3 linked regions of the Homo sapiens genome follow. The protein of the gene in region 2 interacts with the protein of the main gene of each other region in a biochemical or structural test. Each region holds a gene or a part of one and is shown on either strand. Other genes may lie near its edges.

Region 1 (7,876 bases), on a different chromosome or scaffold from region 2:
GAACTTTAAAGACTGAAAAGCCAGTCAAAGGAAAGTCAAGGCAGTTTGGGGCAGTGGATCGGTGAGGCCTCCCAAGTTTGTACTGGGTTTGAATCTACAGTCTACTACTTAATATGTGTATGAATTTGATCACATTATTAATATGAGTCTCAGTATCTTCTGGTTTTTTTTTTTTTTTTTAAGACATAGGCCAGGCGCGGTGGCTCACGCCTGTAATTCCAGCACTTTGGGAGGCAAAGGCAGGCGAATCATGAGGTCAGGAGTCCAAGACCAGTCTGGCCAACATAATGAAACCCCGTCTCTACTAAAAATACAAAAAATTAGCTGGGTGTGGTGGTGTGCACCTGTAATCCCAGCTACTCAGGAGGCTGAGGCAAGAGAATTGTGTGAACCCAGGGGGCGGAGGTTGCAGTGAGCTGAGATTGCACCACTGCACTCCAGCCGGGGCAACAGTGCAAGACACTGTCTCAAAAAAAAAAAAAAAAAAAAAAAAAAGACAGTTTCCCTCTGTCGCCCAGGCTGGACTGCAGTGGCAAGATCTCAGCTCACTGCAACCTCTGCCTCGCAGATTCAAGAGATTCTTCCACCTCAGCTTCCCAAGTAGCTGGGACTACAGGCATGCACCACCACACGCGGCTATTTTTTGTACCCTTTTTTTTTTTTTTTTTTTTGAGACGAAGTCTCACTCTTATCCCACAGGCTGGAGTGCGATGGCACGATTCAGCTCACTGCAACCTCCACCTCCCAGGTTCAAGCGATTCTCCCGCCTCAGCCTTCCGAGTAGCTGGGGATTACAGGCATGCACCACCACACCTGGCAAATCTTGTATCTTTAGTAGAGACGGGGTTTCTCCATGTTGGTCAGGCTGGTCTCAAACTCCTGACCTCATGTGATCCACCCGCCTCGGCCTCCCAGAGTGCCGGGATTAGCAGCATGAGCCACCATGCCTGGCCAGCATCTTCATTTTTTAAAAAAAGGATAATAATAGTGCTTTCATCATAAAGTTATGTGACATTTTAAAAAAATATAATGCATCATGCCTTATAAATCATGCCTGCAATAAATATTGGCCATTATGTCATTGTCATTAACAGCATTTGCAAAGGTTCAAAAAGGGGAAGAAAGAGCCAGTGATATTTGAGGGTAGGGGAAGAGACAATACAAACTGGCTGAAATGCAATGAAAACAGGAGAAAAGGCAGGTGGAAGCACATCCTGAAAGCTTTATTAGCTGTGCTAATTCAGCAGTCACTAGCTACATATGGCTATTAAGCACCTGAAATGTGGCTACTTCAAACTGAGGTATGCTTAAGTGTAAATTACAAAATATATTTCAAAGACTTAGTATTTCAAAATGCAAGATATTTTATAGTCTTTATATCAATTGCACCTTAAAATATTTTAGACATACTGGGTTAAATAAAGCATATTAAAATTACAATAGCCAAAAGGTGGAAGCAACCCAAGCGACCAGCAACAGATCAATGGATTTTTAAAATGTGGTACATACATATAATGGAATATTATTCAGTCATACACAGTAAATTCTGGCTGGGTGCGGTGGCTCACACTTGTATAATCCTAGCATTTTGGGAGACCAAGGGGGCAGATCGCTTGAGCTCAGGAGTTTGAGACCAACCTGGGCAACATGGTGAAACCCTGTCTCTACAAAAAAATACAAAGTAGCCAAGCATGGTGATGTGAGCTTGCAGTCCCAGCTACTTGGGGGGCTAAGGCAGGAGGATCACTTGAACTTCAGGAGGTGGAGGCTGCAGCAAGCCATGATTGTGCCACTGCACTCCAGCCTGGGTGACAAAGTGAGACCTGTCTCAAAAAAAAAAAAAAAAGTAAATTCTGACACATGCTACAACATAAATGAACCTTGTGGACGTTATACTAAGGGAAATAAGTTAATCACAAAAGGCCAAACACTGTCTTATTCCACTTATATGAAATACCTAGAGTAGTCAAATTCAGAGACAGAAAGAAGAATGGTGGTTGCTAGAGGTGGGGGAATGGGGAAAATGGGGAGTTACTGTTTAAACGGTCCAGGGTTTCAGTTTTGCAAGATGAGTTCTGGAAACGGATGGTGGTAACAATTGTACAACAATGTGAATGTACTTAATGTCACTGAAGTGAACCCTTAAAAATGGTTAACATGATAAATTTTGTTATGTGTGAGTCACCACTATTGAAAAATTGACTTCAGTCCTTCCTTTTGATTAAAGTGGCTAATAGGAAAATTACATATGTGGCTCATACTGTTTTTTGTTTTTAAGAGACCAAGTCTCATTCTGTCACCACAGCTGGAATGCTGCGGTGCAATCATAGCTCAGTGTAACCTCCAAACTCCTGGGCTCAACCTTGCTGGACTAGCTGGGACTACAGGTGTGTGCCACCACACCTAGCTAAATTTTTATTTTTTTGTAGACAGGCTGGTCTCGAACTCCAGGAGGTGGGGGCTGCAGTGAGCCATGATCACTGAGCCATGGTGCTCAAGCAATCCTGCCACCTTGGCCCCGCAAAGTGTTGGGATTACAAGCATGAACCACTGAGCCCAGCTCACATTGTATTTCTATAAAAAATAAGTCATGGTAAAAATTTCCAATGAGAAGTGTTTTGATGAACAAGATATATTAACAGGAAGCCCTAATACCAGGGTAAGCAAACTTTCTGTTACGGGCTAGACAGTAAATATTTTTGGCTCTACCAGCCACATGGTCTATTCTGAAAGGAGCTATAGATAACACATAAGCAAATGGGCACAATAGATTTCGACTACCAGTTTGCTGGCCTCTGCCCTAAGGCACCCATTATAAGCAATGGCTCTTAAATTTTCATAAATTTTGTGAGCCAGTTTAATAACGGTATCTTGAAATCTGCCACAGTGAGAATATTTACATCATGGAAATCCAGCAAACACTACAAATCAGTGTTTTTCCTGAAGAACGGGTTGATAAACCAGCATTTACCAACAAACCACTCACTATGTAATGAATTAACTTCTCTCCTATACATCTAAAATTATATTCATTATGAACCATCTTTGAAAAGAAATGGATAGCTATTCATATCACTTTCTGTGCTCTGTGGTTCAGATGAGAATCTCCAGCTAAGAAAGGTGGTTCTAGAAGAGTAATGTTCCAGGCAGAGAAGCAAGAGTGAACATCATGAAGCAGTCAAGAGTTGTGCCTGGAGAGTGGTGACCTGGGGGGAACAGCTTAAGAGGAAGCTTCCACAAAAGGACTGGGAGCTACCAGATTATGTACATACTACACTCAGTAAAGGTTCAACAATAAGTAGTTATTACTGAATATGTATTATTGTACATAATGGACTAGATTCATCTGTAAATAATTTATTGAGCCCTAGGCTCTGGTAACACAATGGTGAACAATCACAGCCCCTCTCTAAAGAGAAGGAATCACATAAATATACAATTTTTAGTTGTGATGAATTCTTATCAAAAACAGGCTACTGTGAGAAATCCAACAGGGGATCCCAATCCAGTCTGGACAATCAGAAATAGATACTACCTGGAGAAACTGACCTTTGCATTAAGATTTAAAGATGGAAAAGGAATGGGCAAAGAGTGTTCTTGCATTCTAGGTAGCAAGAACAAACTGTACAGAAGTCCTCAGGCAGGAAAAAAAGTATTAACAGGTCAGGGAACTAGAAGGTCAATGTAGTCAGCCAAGCAAGCAAAGAAAGAAGGCATCTGCAAAAAATGGAGAGGGCATGGAACCGTATTACACAGGGCCTCGCTACTCCATTATATATTCTAAGACCAACAGGGAGCCATTAGCTTTACACAGAGGGTGGCATGCTCTGATTAACGTTTTTCAGAGATCACTCTTGGAATGGCTGGTGGGAGAGTTATAGAAGTCAGGCAACTGACCAGTAGGCTACTGCAGTTTCTAGGCAAGAGGTAATGGCAACTTATTGGAGCCACTACCCGATATTTTAAGTACGTAATCTATAAAATACGCCACCACAGAAATTTTTGCTCTCAGGACACCATTTTACAACTTCAGAACTCCAAAGAGTTTTGCTTGTTTAGGTTATAGCTGTTGATATTTATAATATTACAAATTAAAACTGAATAACCTTTAAAAATAAATTCATTTAAAAATAATACATTATATATTAATAAAAATAACATCCTTATGAAAAATAACTATTTTCTCAGTGATAAGAGTGGCATTATTTTAAATTTTTGGAAATCACTTTAGTCTTGTAATAGAAGACAGCTGGATTTTCACATCTGTTGTCATATCCCACACCTTAAAGACTCTAGCCAAGTGCACTGCCCAGTTTTGAGAAAATTAGACTGAAAAATAAAAATAACATCTCAGAATTACTATGAAAATAGTTTCATCTCATGGTACCCTTAACAGGGTATGGGGACTCCCCAAACCACAGTGAGAACTACTGCTCAGATAACAAAAAGCAAATTTGTCTAGCAGGCTGTCCAGTTTTCCTCAGAGTGCCCCCAGCAAAAATAATAATGAAAATAAAAAGCAAAATAATCACAGTAAGATACCATTTCACAGCCAGTAAGATGGCTATAATCACAAAGACAGTAATAAGTATTACCGAGAATGTGGTTATCGGAATCCTCATGCATTGCTAGTGGAAATGTAAAATGGTACAGACACCTTAGAAAATAATTTGGCAGCTCCTCATAAAGCTCAACATAGAGCTTTGACCCAGCAATTTCCACTCCAAGATCTACACCCAAGAAAAATGAAAACGTTATGTCCCCACAAAAACTTATACATGAGTGTTCAGAGGCATTAGTCACAATAGCCAGAAAGTAGAAACAACCCAATGTCCACCACGTGATAGAAAAATAAAATGTGGAATGCTGTTGGCAACACAATGGAATGTTATTCGGCAATAAAAAGGAAGTAAGTACCGGCACATGCTTCAACAGGGATGAACCTTGAAAACACTATGCTAAGTGAAAGCCAATCACAAAAGACCACATGATTCCACTTACAACAAACGCCCAGAACAAGCAAATCTATAGACAAAAAATAGATCAGTAGTTGCCTAAGGCTGGGGGGCCCAGGGAGAAACGAAGGGCAACTGCTAAAGGGTACAGCGTTTCTTTTTGAGGGTTCTAAACGTTCTAAAATTGACTACACGACCCTGTGAATGTATTACATCAATTACAGACTTTAAAATGGTGAACTGTATGGTAGGCAAATTACACTTCAATTACGCTCTTTCTTAAAAAAAGCTAAGCAATCTCTGTTAATCAGAATCATTAAATAACGAGTTTTTCAGCTGTCCAGTATTAGAACAAAGCAAATAAGAAAACAATGATCTCACAGACATTTTTTTTCTCAGATATCTTGCTATACTGATTCAATCCAACCTTCTGGATAAGATGTTGTCCAGCAGAAATATATATAAGCCACAAGTAATTTAAAAATTTTAAGCAGCCATACTGAAAAAAAAGTTTTTAATAAAAGGTCAAATTAATTTTGATATTTTACTTAACTCACGATCTGCAAAATACTATTTCAATACATAATATATCAAAAGTATTAAGATATTTATTTTGTTCATACCAAATTTTCAAAATCTGGTATAAATTTTACACTTAACACATCTCACTTTTTAAGTACTTAACCACATGTGGGTGATGGTATCAAAGTGGACAGTATAGTTCTAGATCCACACTATACAGTATAACGTTAAATCATGTGTGTGATGATGACCCTAAGGCAAGTTGCCTTATCAAAGAAAGGCTCAATTTGACTCAATACGTTTAAATTATGTCTAAGTATATTAATATTTTCCCAGAAGTTTGCACTGACAGAAGGCACTTTCTAAAACCAGAGTATATACTGCCTGAACATTTCAAGTAAATGTACTTCAAAATTTTACACATAACCTAACAGTCTATGAAATCCCAGAATAAGCTAATTAGAAGTTACACAGAAACTCCCCTCCATTATCTGCACTAATGTCTCACATATATAACTCTCCATTCTTCTAGATGTTATCTTGCTCGTGGATACTTGGAAATCCTCAAAGCTCTTTTCAATAGCTGATGATGAACAATTAACCAAAAAAAAAAAATCTCATACACAGGGACTTTGTGCCACTACACATTTATGCTTTTGTATCTATTTACTTACATACAGGTTGAGCATCCCCAATCCAAAAATATGAAATCTGAAATGCTCCAAAATCTGAAATTTTTTAACACCATGACATCACATGTGGAAAAATCCCATATGTAACACCTTTGCTTTCTGATGGTTCAATGTATACAGTTTGTTTCACTCGCAAAATTATTTAAAATATTGTATAAAATTACCTTTAGGCTCTGTGCATAAAATGTACATGAAATATAACTGAATTTCATGTTTATATTTAGGTGCCATCCCCAAGATATCTCATTATGTATATACAAATATTCCAAAATCCAAAAAAAAAGAAAATCCAAAGTCCCAAACACTTCTGGTCCCAAGCATTTCCCATAAGGGATACTCAAAACCTGTATTACAAAAATCTCTATTAATGACAGCACCTTGGAATGTACACAGTGCAGTTTATATTCTCACTACCTATTCTAGCAACCTGTAAGTAAAAATTTATGTTACTCAGTTGATTCTGAGTGCTCCGTGAATAATAAATTTCACTCTAAATTGGAAAAAAGCTTAAGCTTTATTAGTAACCTTGAACAAGTAACATTATTAAATACCAAATGTATATAGCACTGTAAAAAATTAAGGCAACCTGTTTCTGCCTGTTGGTACTCACGACCAGAAACCAATGGAAAAATAGGAAAATAAATTACCACCTTACAATTTACCCAAGAAGTTTAACGTAATTTCATCTAATCACTTATTACAGCATGTTCATATAAACAGAATTTTGGTATAATGTGTTAAGGAATCTACATTACATAGAAATACTTATTGAAAGAAATTTTAACTTATAGAAAACGGAATTTGTCTGATACAGAGCATAAGCCTTCAATATTATCCTCTGGAGGTCTTCGGCTTACCCTCTGACCCTCCAAAATTAGGTACAAATTTTAAAGACTAAATATTTCCCAATTTCTAACTGGACACTTTCAGTGGAATTTTAATGTCATTAAGTATTTTTAATGACAAATTTTCATTTGTAACAAACAGTTTCAATCAAACCCTTTAAAATTTTTAAATTATAAAATGGCATATCTTTTGTGCTTCAAGTAGATTTTACAAATAGGTCATTTGAAAACTGCTTTTCTTTTTCTTCCACATTTTCCTGTATCTGTTTCCCTTGCATATACAAAGCCCAACTTGTCTACAGGTTCTCTGGTGTGGTGATAAGCGTCAATTTTTATCACATTTTCTGCTTCAACATAAAACAATGATCAAGAATTTAAAAATAAACTACCATCAGAAAAGGCTACTTCAGAAAGACTTTAATTTTATCTATTAACAATTCGTACTGGGCCGGGTGCCCGGTGGTTCACACCTGTAATCCTAGCACTTTGGGAAGCCGAGGCAGGCGGATCACAAGATCAGGAGTTCGAGACCAGCCTGGCCAACATGGTGAAACCCTGTCTCTACTACAAATAGGAAAATTAGCCGGGTGTGGTGTGGCATGCGCCTGTAGTCTCAGCTACTAGGGAAGCTGGGGTGGGAGAATCCTTGAACCCGGGAAGGGGAGGTTGCAGTGAGCCGACACCATGCCATTGCACTCCAGCCTGGGGGGTGACAGAGACTCCATCTCAAAAAAAAAAAAAAAAAAAAAATCTCACTTTGGTTACAGCAGAGTAAAATAAAAGCGTTCACAGAATTTATAATTTTAACATCACAAAAAGCAAAAACATCCTCACAGCTATAACATCATATATTGACTGAAAG
Region 2 (6,550 bases):
TTGGATCTGAATTCTCTGCCCACATTGTACTTTCACATACTTCTTTTACCCTTAGTGGTTTGTACTTATGCCTGGTCTAACTAGATTGTCTCCCTGTAACAGACTTCTTGATTCAACAAAGCAGCTCTGAATCAGCCTGAAACCTATGGCACACTGCAAAATGGCAAACATTCAATAGGTATTTGCCCAGTAAATGTTAATGAAAGGAAAAAAATTCAAACTTCAGTTGGAATAGGATTAGAGACAAGTTAAAAAAAAGTTTCCCATAGAAATCTTCCTCATCGTAAATATCATCATCCTAAATGTCCCGAGTCTTTCCATGGGTCTAATTTACCAAATCATGAAGACTCTCTTTCTCACTGTGTATGTGTAGTGGGAGAGGCAGAGACAGAACGGTTTTTTTTTTTTTTTGCAAGTCTGCTCTCTGGATTCGTTTTTCTGGGGATGAAATCTCAGGCTATGTAGCTTTTCTGGTCCCTTTTTGGTAATCAACAAATCATCAGTTTCTCTAGGTATTAAAAAGCCTACACTTTTGAAACACCAAGAGGCCAAACTCTCTCTTAATTGAAAACATAATTCTGCCTCTTACTGAGGTCTTTGGGTGGGAAGCTTAAAGACAGCAGTGTTGGGGCAATTGGTTTTTCTTTTCCTCCCTCCACCTTCTTTCCCATTCAAGAGCTGTTGCTGCCCTTTCTGGAGGGGAGGGAATTAGAAAAAAAGATCCTGCCTTACCCAGTCACTGTTAATTATTACTTTGAGCCAGGGTGGGGAATGACTTTCTTTCCTGGAATACACCCTGCTGGAAACCACAGCTGAGATTCTCTAAGCTGGCAGCTTCCAACCTCTCCTCCCTCAACAGCTTCAACATTATATGGCACTCAGCTGCAGGGTGCCTGGCTCCAGGCCGGCAGTCCATTTGTGCAGGGTAGTTTTCAAGATGGCTCATAGCCCATCTCTTTCAGTGACCAGCGTGGCCTATGGGAAACATACATCTTGACTCCATTATTGGTAGGAGTACTCTTTAGTTAACTGCCACAGGCCAGTTCAGACACGTCTTACCCTGAGAGCCTTTTCAGAGTCAGGTACCATCCCTGTGTCCCCCAGCATCTGAAGATCACAGGTGAAGGTCTCCAAGTAGTTCACTTAAAAAATACCTCAGTAGGTTTAAGAACAGGGAAAGCTCCCAATTCATTCTGTCAGGAGTATGACTCTCATCCCCAAACTGGACAGATATATAATATGAAAACTACAGACCAATATTCCTTATGAATATAGATGCAAACATTCTAAACAAAATACTAGCAAACCAAATCCAGCAGCATAGAACAAGGTTTATGTAGCATGGACAACTGAGATTATCCCAGGAATGCAAAGTTAATTCAATATACAAAAGTCCATTAATACAACATATTAATAAAGGACAAAACAACATGAAAATCTTGATACAGAAGAAGCATTTAACAAAACCCACAGCCCCTCCTTTTTTTTTTTTTGATTAAAAAACACTCAGTAAACTAGGTTTAATAAAAGAATTTCCTCAACTTGAAGCAAACCCACAGCTAGCTAACATCATACTCAATGGTGAAAGACTGAATGCTTTCCCCTTAAAATCAGGAACAAGAAAAAGATGTCTGCTCTTGTCACTTCTATCCAATATTGTACTGGAGGTGCTAGCCAGCACACTAAGGCAAGAAAATGAAATAATAGGAATCTAGACTGGAAAGGAAGAAGTAAAAGTATTTCTGTTCACAGATGCATGATCTCATATGCAAAAAATACTAAGTGACAAAAAAAGAATTTTAGAAAAGCTACAATATACAAAATCAATATACAAAAATTAATTTTATTTCTAACACCAGTGATGAATACAAAAATAAAAATTAGAAAATAATCATATAATTAAAGTGGCATCAGTAAAATACTTAGAAAAAAATTAAAGACGTCAAGACTTGCACACTGAAATCTCTAAAACATCACTGAAATAAAGACCTAAGCAAATGCAAAGACATCCCACAGTCATGGAACAGAAAACCTAACACCATTAAAATAGCAGTTATTTCTCAAATTTATCTACCAATTCAACTAAATCCCTATCAAGATCCCAGCTGTTTTGCAGGAATTGACACAATGATCATATAAAAATTCATATGCAATGCAAGGGACCCAAAACAGACAAAATGATTTTGGGGAAAAAAAAAAAAAAAATGGAGGACTTGCACATCCCAAATCTAAACTTACTACCAAGCTACAGCCATCAAGACAGTGCGGTGCTGGTATAACGACAGACATATAGGGCAATGGAGTAAGACTGAGAATCCAGAAAGTCTTATATTTATGGTCAACTGTTCTTTGACAAGGGTACCAGGACCATTCATGGGGAAATAATAGTCTTTTCAACAACTGGTGCTTGGGCAGATGGATATACAGATACCAATGCACTTATGCAAAAAATGGATGAAATAGGAAACTTCACTACATTCTACTGCATGCTCGGTCATTTTCAATCATTTAGGTGGCAACACTGACAAGATAACAGAAAGATGGAGGTAATAACATGTGAAAGGCAAAATGGTTTGTTTTTTTTTTTAAAAATGACAGTCTCTATCATGAATTTACTTACACTCCAGGCAAAGGTTATTAGAAGAAAAAAAGATGTAAGAAAATTCCTTAACTGAAATGTGGAAAGAGTATCAAGAGGAGACCCTAAGACACTCTGTAAGAATCCCAGTGACTCCTCACTGTTCAACTAAGAAATGTACCCCATTATGCTGTGCTACCACGGAAGCATTGGAGGCACTTTGGGGGTTGATGAAGTCTTCATGGATGAGGTACTTTAAATATCTGGTCATGAAGAGTATTTGAGAAATATGACAAGTGAAGATGCTGGGTAGGAATGCAGCGAGGAAAGTGTGTAACACAAGGCCAAATTGGAAAGGTCAGTGAGGGGGCAATCTGTGGAGGCACTGAATGCAGAGGATATTAAAATTAGCAAGATAGTGTTCTAGCACAATGAAAAGGATTGGAAGAGGGAGATGAGAGTCAGGGAGTGAAATTAGGCAGCTGCTAAGAATGTCCGGGTGAGTCAGAGGATCAGGACCTGTAAGGGCAGTATAAAGAAGGAAGGAATGATGGGAGAGGTTTAGGGGGAAAGAAGTGACAACCTGTGACAATTGAGGAATGAGAGATTTTGATGATTGGGGTGAAGGTTACATTTCTTAAAAAGAAACAAAGAATGGTCGGTCGATAGAGATGCAAGATGAAGAATTTTGTTTTTAGGACTACTGACTATGAGGTAACAAAGAAATCCCAGAGACAGAGGTCTGAGCAAAAGATATGGGATTGGGGAAGAATCTTTGGGAGTGACTGAGGTTGACTAGAGGGAACTGGGCAAGAACAGGTAAGGACTTTAAGCAGAATTGGAGGAGTATCCATCTAAAATCTGGGTAAACTGGGATGGAAAAACAAGTAGCCAGAGAAGCAACAGCCCAAGCTAGGGTGTTGTCAAGGTTATAGATGTTACTGATTTTGGCAATGAGGAGATTATAAGGATCCTTGAAGACTGTACTTTCGGTGAAACTACCATGCATTAGTAGCCTTTCACAGTGATATCTACCCCACACCTGCATCAAAATCTTGCAGTGCCTATTAATAAATGCCAACCCACTAACGGGGAGGGGAGAAAAGACTTGGGACTCTGTACTTGTAAAACCCTCTACCCTCCCCAGGCAATTCTTTACACACTAACACTGTTGAGGTAAAAGGAGACAAGTGAGGGAGCAAATGGAAGGTGTGTTTTTGGATTATACAGTGGCTCATGGAAGGGTGGGAGGGGTACAGATGGCCCTTAGACACTGGCGGAAAGTCAGAGAAAAAAAATTACAGTAAGCAGGTAAAGGGATCAAGACTACACAGGGACTAGTCTTGGGACGACATTTCTTCCTCTGACAGTTTGTATGGAATTCTTGAGAAAAATTCCTCGAAGGGGCCTGAAATCTCAGAATGGTCATGTTTTTAATGGGAATAGGGAGTGATGCTGCCCCATTACAACCATCTGTTCTAACAGAATGTCTGTACCGAGGAGGGATGAGTAACATCGGCAAGTTCTGTTCGAAGCCTTTTTCAAGTTTCTTTTTGATATGTATCTATCTATCTATCATCTCCCTATACAAGCAAGCATCCCCAAAAGTAGTTGTCTCAGGAAACCAGGGTTAGGATGACCAGCTCATTTGCTGGAGCTGCCAAGGTCCAGAAAAGTTTGGCTGCAGGCTGTTTTCATGTTTTATGTATGTTTGAAATGTTCTATAATAATAAAAGGTTAAAAAAGTTTACATTTATTTGGAAAACCAGTTACTTTAGTTTATGGTTCCTTTTTTTCCCTCCAGAGCTTCCTGGAGATTGAGGTCTAATTCAAAGAAAACCAAAATATATAATAGAGTACCTGGGCAAAAAAAGTACTTTTATAACATAACATTTGGGGTAGAGGAAGTATCCACTGTAGTCAAAATGTCTATGTTTTGCTCTTCCTTATTGTTCAGGGACATTCCATTAAATAGTAATGAAAAGGCAGCAAAAGTAAGAGGAGTGACAACATGCCCGGCATAATTAAGCAAGCTAGAGCAGCTATTCTGTGCAACCGACGATTTTTTTTCTCTAAAATTTTAAGGGTAGGTTCATTCTGACTCTGTTAAAAGTCTACTTGATGTGAACAACTCTATATCTGATAACCTATTTCAATTACCACTTTAAAACTTGTCATATGGATACGTTATTACAATTGTAGAACTTTAATAAATACCATAATAATAAAACTTGAGAACTGAAGAGCACACATTTCTTCACGAATTTATTATATAAAACGCCCTCAGAGTATTTAATTTCTCCTCACTTTAATTACACATTAAGAAGCACAGTGGATGAGAAGCCTTTAAGATGACTACAGTTGCACGAAGGTCCCTTTCATCAAGGTAGCGTATGTACCCTAACAGTGTTCTAAAGGCTGGCCCAGAAAAACCCCATGTTACCTTATCACAATATGGAAAGCATTGTCTTCTTTTTCCACTAAATTAAATTATGGTGAAAAGTGCCACAGTTTTATTTAGCATTATGGTACATAACAAACAGTTCTGTCTCAATTATGAAAAAAATTAATTAAAATAATCCTGAAAGACATCCTTTTTCTCCCCCCAATGATTTGAAAGCTGCATTTTTCCTGCCAATTTCAAACAAACAAATCATCAGGTTGATCTACAGTAATCAGTTAAAACAATCAGTCAATCAATCAATCAATCACCAAGGCACAAGCTCAGCACATTAGCTATAGCTTGTAGCAAAAGGATATATCAATGTCTCACCTTAGTTAAAAATACATAATCCTTTTATTTTATAATGCAATAAAAGAAATTAACAACATCACATACACAGAAGACTAGGAAAGGGGAAACTACTTACTTCTGGAAATCAGTAATGTAAACCTACTTGTACTTTTCCATAGTACATGAAAGTAACGTTTAACATGTTTTGAATTAATTAATTAAATTTAATCTGTGGGGCTATACAATGTAATTCTTAGGAGTAATAGTTTCATTCATTTCCAGGTCAGCTTACTGTATGATTAAGTAACACAAGGCACAGTAGCCATCTTTTTCATTATGTTGCAACACTGATCACGTGCCTCGATAAAATGGCTGATTCAACAAGATGATGGCAACACGAAGGGGAGACTTTGGATTGTCTATTTAAAATCTAGGTAATAAGTAAGTAATTAATAAAAACTCTATCTTAAGTGCACTTTCACATGCTTTTTGTTTATAATAAACAAACAACAAACTTCCTAACTTTGTTGCAATAGGCTTGACTACCATTTCATTTGGCCAAATGCACTTTCCCCAGTAAACTTAAAACAACAACGAGAACAACAAGAACAAAAATCCCTGTCCTTTCATATACTAAGAAAGAGGATTGGCTACTGAAACAGTTCATTGCAAGACACATGAAGACGACATACTGTGGCATGAGTTGTTTTTGTTTTTAATTTGTTGTGCTGTTACTAAAGTTCTGAGGGCTGCAGTTAAAACATTCCAATTTCTCCCTTCCTTCCATCTTTCTTTATTGATTGATTCTCAAGATTTTGCACAGAAAACTCTTTGGGGGCTAGAACAGCAGTAATTGCATCACACTGTTTTCAAGACTTCAAGTTTCAAAAGCAAATCATTAAAAAAAATACAGTTCCTGATTTGAGTTAGATACAGGGACAAAAAAGTAGCACATACTTGAAGGTTACGTGGTCTACAAATGGTGGCAATATTTTCCTTGGGAGAGTAGTTCTGTTGGTATATATTTTTTAAATACTCAAAAGGCTCAACCTCAAGCAGTAATAAACACAAGCAAAAGTGATTTAACCCTTAAAATAAATATTCAGAAAAACCTCTCTGTACATACAAGTGAAAGAATATGTAACACTTTCACGCAAAAAAATAATTATAATAATAATAAAGGATTTGTTCATATATGTAGCTGAAATCTGCTGTTCCAGCCCACATGTCCCCAATAA
Region 3 (7,876 bases), on a different chromosome or scaffold from region 2:
TCCCAAGGCTATAAATACCTCGGCTGGCGTCGGCCCTGGCCATGGAATGTCGGTCAGAACTGGGGCGAGTGGGGGTGGGCTGGTCTGCCTGGGCACCTCCCTCCGTTCCCCTGCGAGTGACCCCTGAGACTCTCTGTACCCCACTTTGGATGGAGTGGCAGCTGGATCCCACCTCTCTGTAGCAAGGGAGGCCCAGGCCACGGCCCAGCCAAGGCCCCAGAGGCACCAGAAAAAGGTCAGGCTCTGGGTTGGAACTGCACCCCACTTTCCACCAAGTATCTCCCCAGAAATCACCTGAACCCACCCCGGTGAGACGGGCGTCTCTGTATAACTCTCCCCTCTCTCCCTTTCAGTGAAAGAATTCTTAGCCAAAGCCAAAGAAGATTTTCTTAAAAAATGGGAAAGTCCCGCTCAGGTAAGGCTGCCGGGTGCAGAGCCCAGGGAGGGGTGAGCTGCTAACCCCCAGCCCCTGGCTGTGTCCCAGCAACACAGCTAGAATTTCAGAAACCCCATAGAAGGCTTCAGACCCTCCCCATTTGCTCCCTAGGTGCCCATGGGGGCTCCTGTGTGGAGACACCTGACTGCCCAATGCCAGGCACCCCCATCCCACCACCCCTCCCAACGGCCCGCCCCTGCCCCCAGCACAGCTGCCAGCAGCTTCCAGGCCCCAGGCCAGGGCCGGATCTGGCCCCTGCCACCCGCCTTAAGGAATGTGCCCTCTGCCATCTTGATTTTCCGCCCCCTGTCCTCACCCCGCTGACCCCACGTGCTCCCCGGGGCCCCCTCTGCCGGTGGCAGAGGGGATGCCCCAGACCTTAGCCAAGCAGGCCGCGGGGAGGGCGTGCCCTGAGCCTACCGACCCCTCTGCCCACAGAACACAGCCCACTTGGATCAGTTTGAACGAATCAAGACCCTCGGCACGGGCTCCTTCGGGCGGGTGATGCTGGTGAAACACAAGGAGACCGGGAACCACTATGCCATGAAGATCCTCGACAAACAGAAGGTGAGGTGGCCTGTCCTCGCTCAGGGCCTGCCTGTCAGGCCTTTGCCTGGACTGTGCCCACTCCTTAGAGTGCCCTATCCACCCGTTCACTCACTTGCTTTTTTTTGATTCAGAGTCTCGCTCTGTCGCTCAGGCTGGAGTACAGTGGCGTGATCTCGGCTCACTGCAACCTCCACCTCCCTAGTTCAAGCGATTCTCCTGCCTCAGCCTCCCGAGTAGCTGGGATTACAGGCGCCTGCCACCACACCCAGCTAATTTTTGTATTTTTAGTAGAGATGGGTTTTCGCCATGTTGGCCAGGATGGTTTCGAATTCCTGACCTCAGGTGATACACCTGCCTCAGCCTCCCAAAGTGCTGGGATTACAGGCGTGAGCCACCGCGCCTGGCCGCTTGGTTTTTTTGTGGGGGACAGGATCCTGCTCTGTTGCCCAAGCAGGAAAGTGCAGTGACGTGATCATAGCTCACTGTAGCCTCAAACTCCTGAGCTCAAGAGATCCTCCTGAGTAGCTGGGACTACAAGCGCACACTACCATGCCTGGCTAATTTTTTTTTGTTGTTTGTTTGTTTTTTGTTTTAGACAGGGGGTCTTGCTGTGTTGCCCAGGCTGGTCTTGAACTCCTGGCCTCAAGTGATCTCCTACTTCAGCCTCCCAAAGCACAGGGATTACAGGCATGAGCCACCATGCCAGGCTCACCCACTATTCCCCGAGCCCCCATAATGTGCCAGCCCCAGGGGTCAGAAGGGCCCTGTGCCGCCTTCCCAAAGCTCCCTCTCCAGGCCGGCCATGGATTCAAAGCCAGGCACTGTGACACAGGGTCAGACACCAGCCCAACAGGAGGAGAACAAGAGCACTCTTGGGGGAAGTGGTGTTTATGTGCACTTTCTTCCCGTAAATATTTTTGTGATCGGACTTTATACCAGGCACTGCTATAAAGCAGCAATGTAACTAGCAGAAATGTAACCTGAGCCACAGAAGCAATTTTAAATTTTCTGTTTGCTCCATCATAAACAGTAAAAACAGCCAAGCACGGTGGCGCACGCCTGTAGTCCCAGCTACTAGACAGGCTGAGGTGGGAGGATCACTTGAACCCAGGAGTTCAACTCCAGCCTCGACAACACAGCCAGACCCCATCTCTAAAAAAACACCCAAAGTTTGTAATTAAAAGAGAAAATGAAAGAAACAGGTGTCATTCATGAAATTCATTTTAATGACATGTTTGGGGCTTTTTTTTATGTTTTTTTTTTTTTGAGACAGAGTCTCACTCTTGTCGCCCAGGCTGGACTGCAGTGGCGTGATCTCAGCTCACTGCAACCTCCACCTCCCAGGTTCAAGTGATTCTCCTGCCTCAGCTTCCCAAGTAGCTGGGATTATGGGTGCCACCACCACGCCCAGCTAACTTTTGTATTTTTAGTAGACTTGGGGTTTCACCATGTTGGTCAGGTTGGTCTCGAACTCCTGACCTCAGGTAATCCGCCCGCCTCAGCCTTCCAAAGTGCTGGGATTACAGATGTGAGCCACCACACCTGGCCTAATGATATGTTTTAATTAAGCCAGTATATCTACAGTATTACCCTTTCCATATATTATCAATGTGAAAATATCATTAATGAAACATTTTACATTCCTTTTGTTTTTTTCCCAGTCCTCCATGACTTCGGAAATATTTCCTTTTTTTCTGTACTGAAGTATCTTTAAAATCCAGTGTCTATTGTATGCTTACAACAGTTCTCAACTCTGATGGTAAATTTTTCCTGGAAAGATAAGAAAAAGCAGGGAAGTTGAAAAAGCAGATTCACATGCCCAAGTTGTTCCAACCATGCCTGAAAGTCACCAGTACCTGCATCAAGAGTTTAATTTTTGTTTTGTTTTGTTTTGTTTTGTTTTTGAGATGGAGTTTCGCTCTTGTTGCCCAGGCTGGAGTGCAATGGCATGATCTCAGCTCACTACAACCTCTGCCTCCGGGTTTCAAGCGATTCTTGTGCTCCAGCCTCCTGAGTAGCTGGAATTACAGGCGCCGGCTACCACGCCCAGCTAATTTTTTAATTTTTTTTTTTTTTTTTTTTGAGATGGAGTCTCGCTCTGTCGCTCAGGCTGGAGTGCAGTGGCACGATCTTGGCTCACTGCAACCTCTGCCTCCCGGGTTCACGCCATTCTTCTGCCTCAGCCTCCTGAGTAGCTGGGACTACAGGCGCCCACCACCACGCCTGGCTAATTTTTTGTATTTTTAGTAGAGATGGGGTTTCACCGTGTTAGCCAGGATGGTCTCCATCTCCTGACCTTGTAATCCACCGGCCTCGGCCTCCCAAAGTGCTGGGATTACAGGCGTGAGCCACCACACCTGGCCAGTTTTTAAATATTTTTAGTAGAGACAGGGTTTCACCATTTTGGCCTGGCTGGTTGTTGTTTTTTTTTTTTTTTTTTTGAGACGGAGTCTCGCTCTGCCACCCAGGCTGGACTGCAGTGGTGTGATCTCAGCTCACTGCCAGCTCCACCTCCCGGGTTCATGCCATTCTCCTGCCTCAGCCTCCCGAGTAGCAGGGACTACAGGCGCCCGCCACCACACCCGGCTAATTTTTTGTGTTTTTAGTAGAGACGGGGTTTCACCATGTTAGCCAGGATGGTCTCGATCTCCTGACCTCGTGATCCACCTGCCTCGGCCTCTCAAAGTGCTGGGATTACAGGCGTGAGCCACCGTACCCGGCCTGGTTGTTTTGTTTTTGAGACAGGGTCTTGCTCTGTTGCCCAGGCTGAAGTGCAGTTGGGCTCAAATGATCCTCCCACCTCAGCCTCTGGAGCTGCTGGGACCATAGTCGTGCCATGCCCAGCTAATTGCTTTTGTTGTCCTTGTTGTTGTTTGTAGAGATGGGGTCTCGCTACATTGCCCAGGCTAGTCTCAAACTCCTGGGCTCAAGCGATTTACCTGCCTGGGCCTCCCAAAGTGCTGGGATTACGGGCGTGAGCCACCATGCCCAGCTGGTGTCAGTTTTTTAATTTATATTTTAGATACTTAAAATTTTTGAATTTGGCTCCCCATCCGACCAGCCATATTTCAAGGGCCCAGCATCCCCCTGTGGCTAATGGGGACTGAACTGGGTAGGGCAGGTATAGACTCTGAGGACACAGCTATGTGAGCAAAGCAGTTGACAGCTGACTGAGGGACCAGGCTGGCCACATGTTACACACCAGCCTGACATCAGCCAGCTGTGTGACCTTGGACAAGTCACCTCCCCTCTGTGTCTGGTCTTCCAAACTGGCGTACTCCCAGCATGGGCCTCTAGGGCTTCTATCCTGATTCAGTGAGAGACTGGGTGCCAGGTGCCTGCTCATGGCATCTGCTATTAGGGGACAGCTGATGGCTGAGGAGCTGTTAGCCTGAGGTTCAGGTTGCTGTGTGGAGTGTTCTAGACAAGGGTAAGGCAGGTCCTAAACCCCCCACCTCTTGGGCTTCTCCTGCCTGTCTTTTCAATTTCAGTTCAGCTGCCCCTTCCTCCAGAAAGCGCTGTCTGATTCCCCCTTCCCCAGACCACGCCAGGTACTTTACATGGGCTTCTTGGGGGCTGCTTCTCCACAACCCCAAGATACCCTCCACCACGGCTCTGACCTCTGTGGGGGTAACCCATGTATTCTTTGCCCTGGACTTAGTGCCGTGCAAGGACAAGCAGCCCCTAGCCTCCCTGATGCTGTGTCCTCAGCATCAGCTAAGGGCCCGACAGGCCACAGGCACACAAATGATTCTGGCTGAAGGAACCGGCCTGGCTCCGGCATCCCTAGTTCCAGGCATTAGGGGAAATGAGGCCCCTCTCACCTCCCCCTCCTTTCTGCCCTCCCCTCCTTCCCTTCCCAGGTGGTGAAACTGAAACAGATCGAACACACCCTGAATGAAAAGCGCATCCTGCAAGCTGTCAACTTTCCGTTCCTCGTCAAACTCGAGTTCTCCTTCAAGGTGGGGTCCCAGTGGCCAAGGGCGGGGGGTCACTGCATTGGGTCCCAGCCTTCTGGCCCCCAGGGCTGGGGTCGGAGCTGAGGACAATCAGTGGCTGCTCTCTTTTGTGGAAGAACAAGATCCCTGGAGGAGGGAGATCAGGGGACAGGAGTCAGGCTGGGACTCTGGTAGACCCAAGTTCAGTTCCTGGTCCAGCCAGTTTGTAGTTCGATACCCTTGGTGAGTCACCCAACCTCAGTAACATCCCTCAAAAGCAGCACCTGGTTTATGGTAAGAGCCTGACCCAGGAGCACAAACTCTGCCCCAGGCAGCCGGGGTTCATTTCCCAGTTCAGTACTTCTTGATGTGTGGCCCCGGGCAAGAGACTTATCTCCCCAAGCCTCAGCTTTCTCATGGTAAAATGGGGATCATACCAGTTCCAGCCTGGTGGGGTTGTCATGACAGTTCCAGGCACGTCTTGAGCGCCCTTTGGGAGCCGTTTTGGGTGCCATCCAAAGCTGTGGTCATGAGAAACAGGAAAGGCCACTCAGGGCCAGCTTCATGGACGTTTGACCCAGAGAAGCACAAGGGCCTGTTCTCCGAGGGACCCCACACCTGGTTTAACGCTTTGCTGCTGCTGCTGTCTTGAGATCCGTAATAATTTTTTTTTGTTGAGACAGAGTCTCACTCTGTTGCTCAGGCTGGAGAGCAGTGGCGCAATCTTGGCTCACTACAACCTCTGCCTCCTGGGTTCAAGCAATTCTCCTGCCTCAGCCTCCTGAGTAGCGGGGATTACAGGTGCCCACCACCATGCCCAGCTTATGTTTGTATTTTTAGTAGAGACAGGATTTTGCCATGTTGCTCAGGCTGGTCTTGAACTCCTGACCTCAAGTGATCTGCCTGCCTTGGCCTCCCAAAGTGCTGGGATTACAGGCATGAGCCACTGTGCCAAGCCTAATTTTTATTTTTTTTATTGAGACAGAGTTTGGCTGTTGTTGCCCAGGCTGGAGTGCAATGATGCGATCTCAGCTCACCACAACCTCTGACTCCTGGGTTCAAGCAATTCTTCTGCCTCAGCCTCCCGAGTAGCTGGGATTACAGGCATGTGCCATCACATCTGGCTAATTTTGTATTTTTTAGTAGAGACAGGGTTTCCCCATGTTGGTCAGGCTGGTCTTGAACTCCTGACCTCAGGTGATCTGCCTGCCTCGACCTCCCAAAGTGCTGGGATTGCAGGTGTGAGCCGTGCCCGGCCATTTTGTTTTGTTTTGTTTAAGATAAGGTCTTACCCTGTTGCCCAGGCTGGAGTGCAGTGGCGCAATTACAGCTCACAACCTTTGCCTCCCAGGCTCAAGCAATCCTCCCACCTCAGTCTCCTGAGTATGAGACTACAGGTGCACGCCATGATGCCCAGCTAATTTTTGTATTTTTGCAGAGACGGGGTCTCACTATGTTGCCCAGGCTGGTCTCAAACTCCTAGGCTCAAGTGATCCACCCACCTTGGCCTCCCAAAGTACTGGGATTATACAGGCATGAGCCACCACACCCGACCCTCTGTAATAATTTTTTAACCAGGGGCCATCTTTTTTATTCTGGGCCCCACTAATTCTGCAGCCTATCATGATCCCATTTTACAGATGACAAAACTGTGGCCTCAGAGCCTTACTCAAGCTCCCAGAGCAAGGTACTACAGAGTTCTCTCTCCAGCCAAGGCAGGCTAACCAGGTCCTGACATACCTCTGAGCCAGCCCTCACTTTCACCCATTAACAGCAGGATAAGGGTCGCCCCTGTAGAACATGATTCCTACAGGGAGCCAGGATCGCTGTTGTCATTTAATGTTTGAACACCAGCCGGGGAGGCCCCCAAGGCCTTCAGATCGGGTCCAAGTCTCAGGGGTGGGCCCTTGACCAGCCACTGCTTCCCACAGGACAACTCAAACTTATACATGGTCATGGAGTACGTGCCCGGCGGGGAGATGTTCTCACACCTACGGCGGATCGGAAGGTTCAGGTAAGCGGGCCACCCCCCATCACATCAGGCTGTCAGGGTGTCCACAGGTGGCAGTGCACGACCAAGCCCCCTGGGAATGCAGAGGAGTCCAGCATACTTCAACATGCAGGTGGTCTCCCAGACCCTGTGGGTTTCTGTTTCCCCTCTGCTGAGGAATATGTGATATTTCAACCACCACAAAACAAAACAGAGCAAACAGGGCAACTTAGGTGTCCAAACTGAAGTTGCTGCCAGGCACGGTGGTTCTCACCAGTAATCCCAGCACTTTGGGAGGCCAAGGTGGGCAGATCACCTGAGGTCAGGAGTTTGAGACCAGCCTGGCCAACATGGCAAAACCCTGTCTCCACTAAAAATACAAAACTGAGCTGGGCATGGTGGTGGGCACCTGTAATCCCAGCTACTTGGGAGGCTGAGGCAGGAGAATCACTTGAACCCAGGAGACAGAGGTTGCAGTGAGCCAAGATCACACCACTGTACTCCAGCCTGGGTGAGAGAGTGACATGCCGTCTCAAAAAAAAAAATTGAAGTTGTTGATTTTGTGCATTTTTTGAGCCCCAAAAGGTGGCATGCATCTGTAGTCCCACTAGTCCTGAGGCTGAGGTGAGAAGATCATTTGAGCTCAAGAATTTGAGACCAGCCTGGGCTGCATAGTGAGGTTTTGTCTCTTTTAAAAAAAAAAAATTGGCTGGGCGCAGTGGCTCGTGCCTGTAATCCTAGAACTTTGGGAGGCCGAGGCGGGCGGATCACGAGGTCAGGAGATCAAGACCATCCTGGTTAACATGGTGAAACCCCGTCTCTACTAAAAAAATACAAAAAAATTAGCCGGGTGTGATGGCGGGCGCCTATAGTCCCAGCTACTCGGGAGGCTGAGGCAGAATGGCGTGAACCCGGGAGGCGGAGTTTGCAGTGAGCCGAGATCGCGCCACTGCACTTCCAGCC

Evidence for each region.
Region 1: the proteins of UBE3A (region 2) and UBQLN1 form a complex in vitro, tested with the Homo sapiens proteins (2 studies listed by BioGRID, with this or other methods).
Region 3: the proteins of UBE3A (region 2) and PRKACA form a complex in vitro, tested with the Homo sapiens proteins (2 studies listed by BioGRID, with this or other methods).

What each region holds. Positions count from the first base shown.
Region 1 is NC_000009.12:83,697,083-83,704,958, forward strand, and holds part of UBQLN1 (ubiquilin-1), read right to left. Parts: intron 1-7,876. UniProt on the Homo sapiens protein: Plays an important role in the regulation of different protein degradation mechanisms and pathways including ubiquitin-proteasome system (UPS), autophagy and endoplasmic reticulum-associated protein degradation (ERAD) pathway.
Region 2 is NC_000015.10:25,332,417-25,338,966, forward strand, and holds the end of UBE3A (ubiquitin-protein ligase E3A), read right to left. Parts: 3' UTR 1,312-6,550; downstream 1-1,311. UniProt on the Homo sapiens protein: E3 ubiquitin-protein ligase which accepts ubiquitin from an E2 ubiquitin-conjugating enzyme in the form of a thioester and transfers it to its substrates.
Region 3 is NC_000019.10:14,099,887-14,107,762, reverse strand, and holds part of PRKACA (cAMP-dependent protein kinase catalytic subunit alpha), read left to right. Parts: coding exon of another isoform or gene 1-52; intron 53-353; coding exon 354-415; intron 416-874; coding exon 875-1,003; intron 1,004-4,848; coding exon 4,849-4,947; intron 4,948-6,854; coding exon 6,855-6,937; intron 6,938-7,876.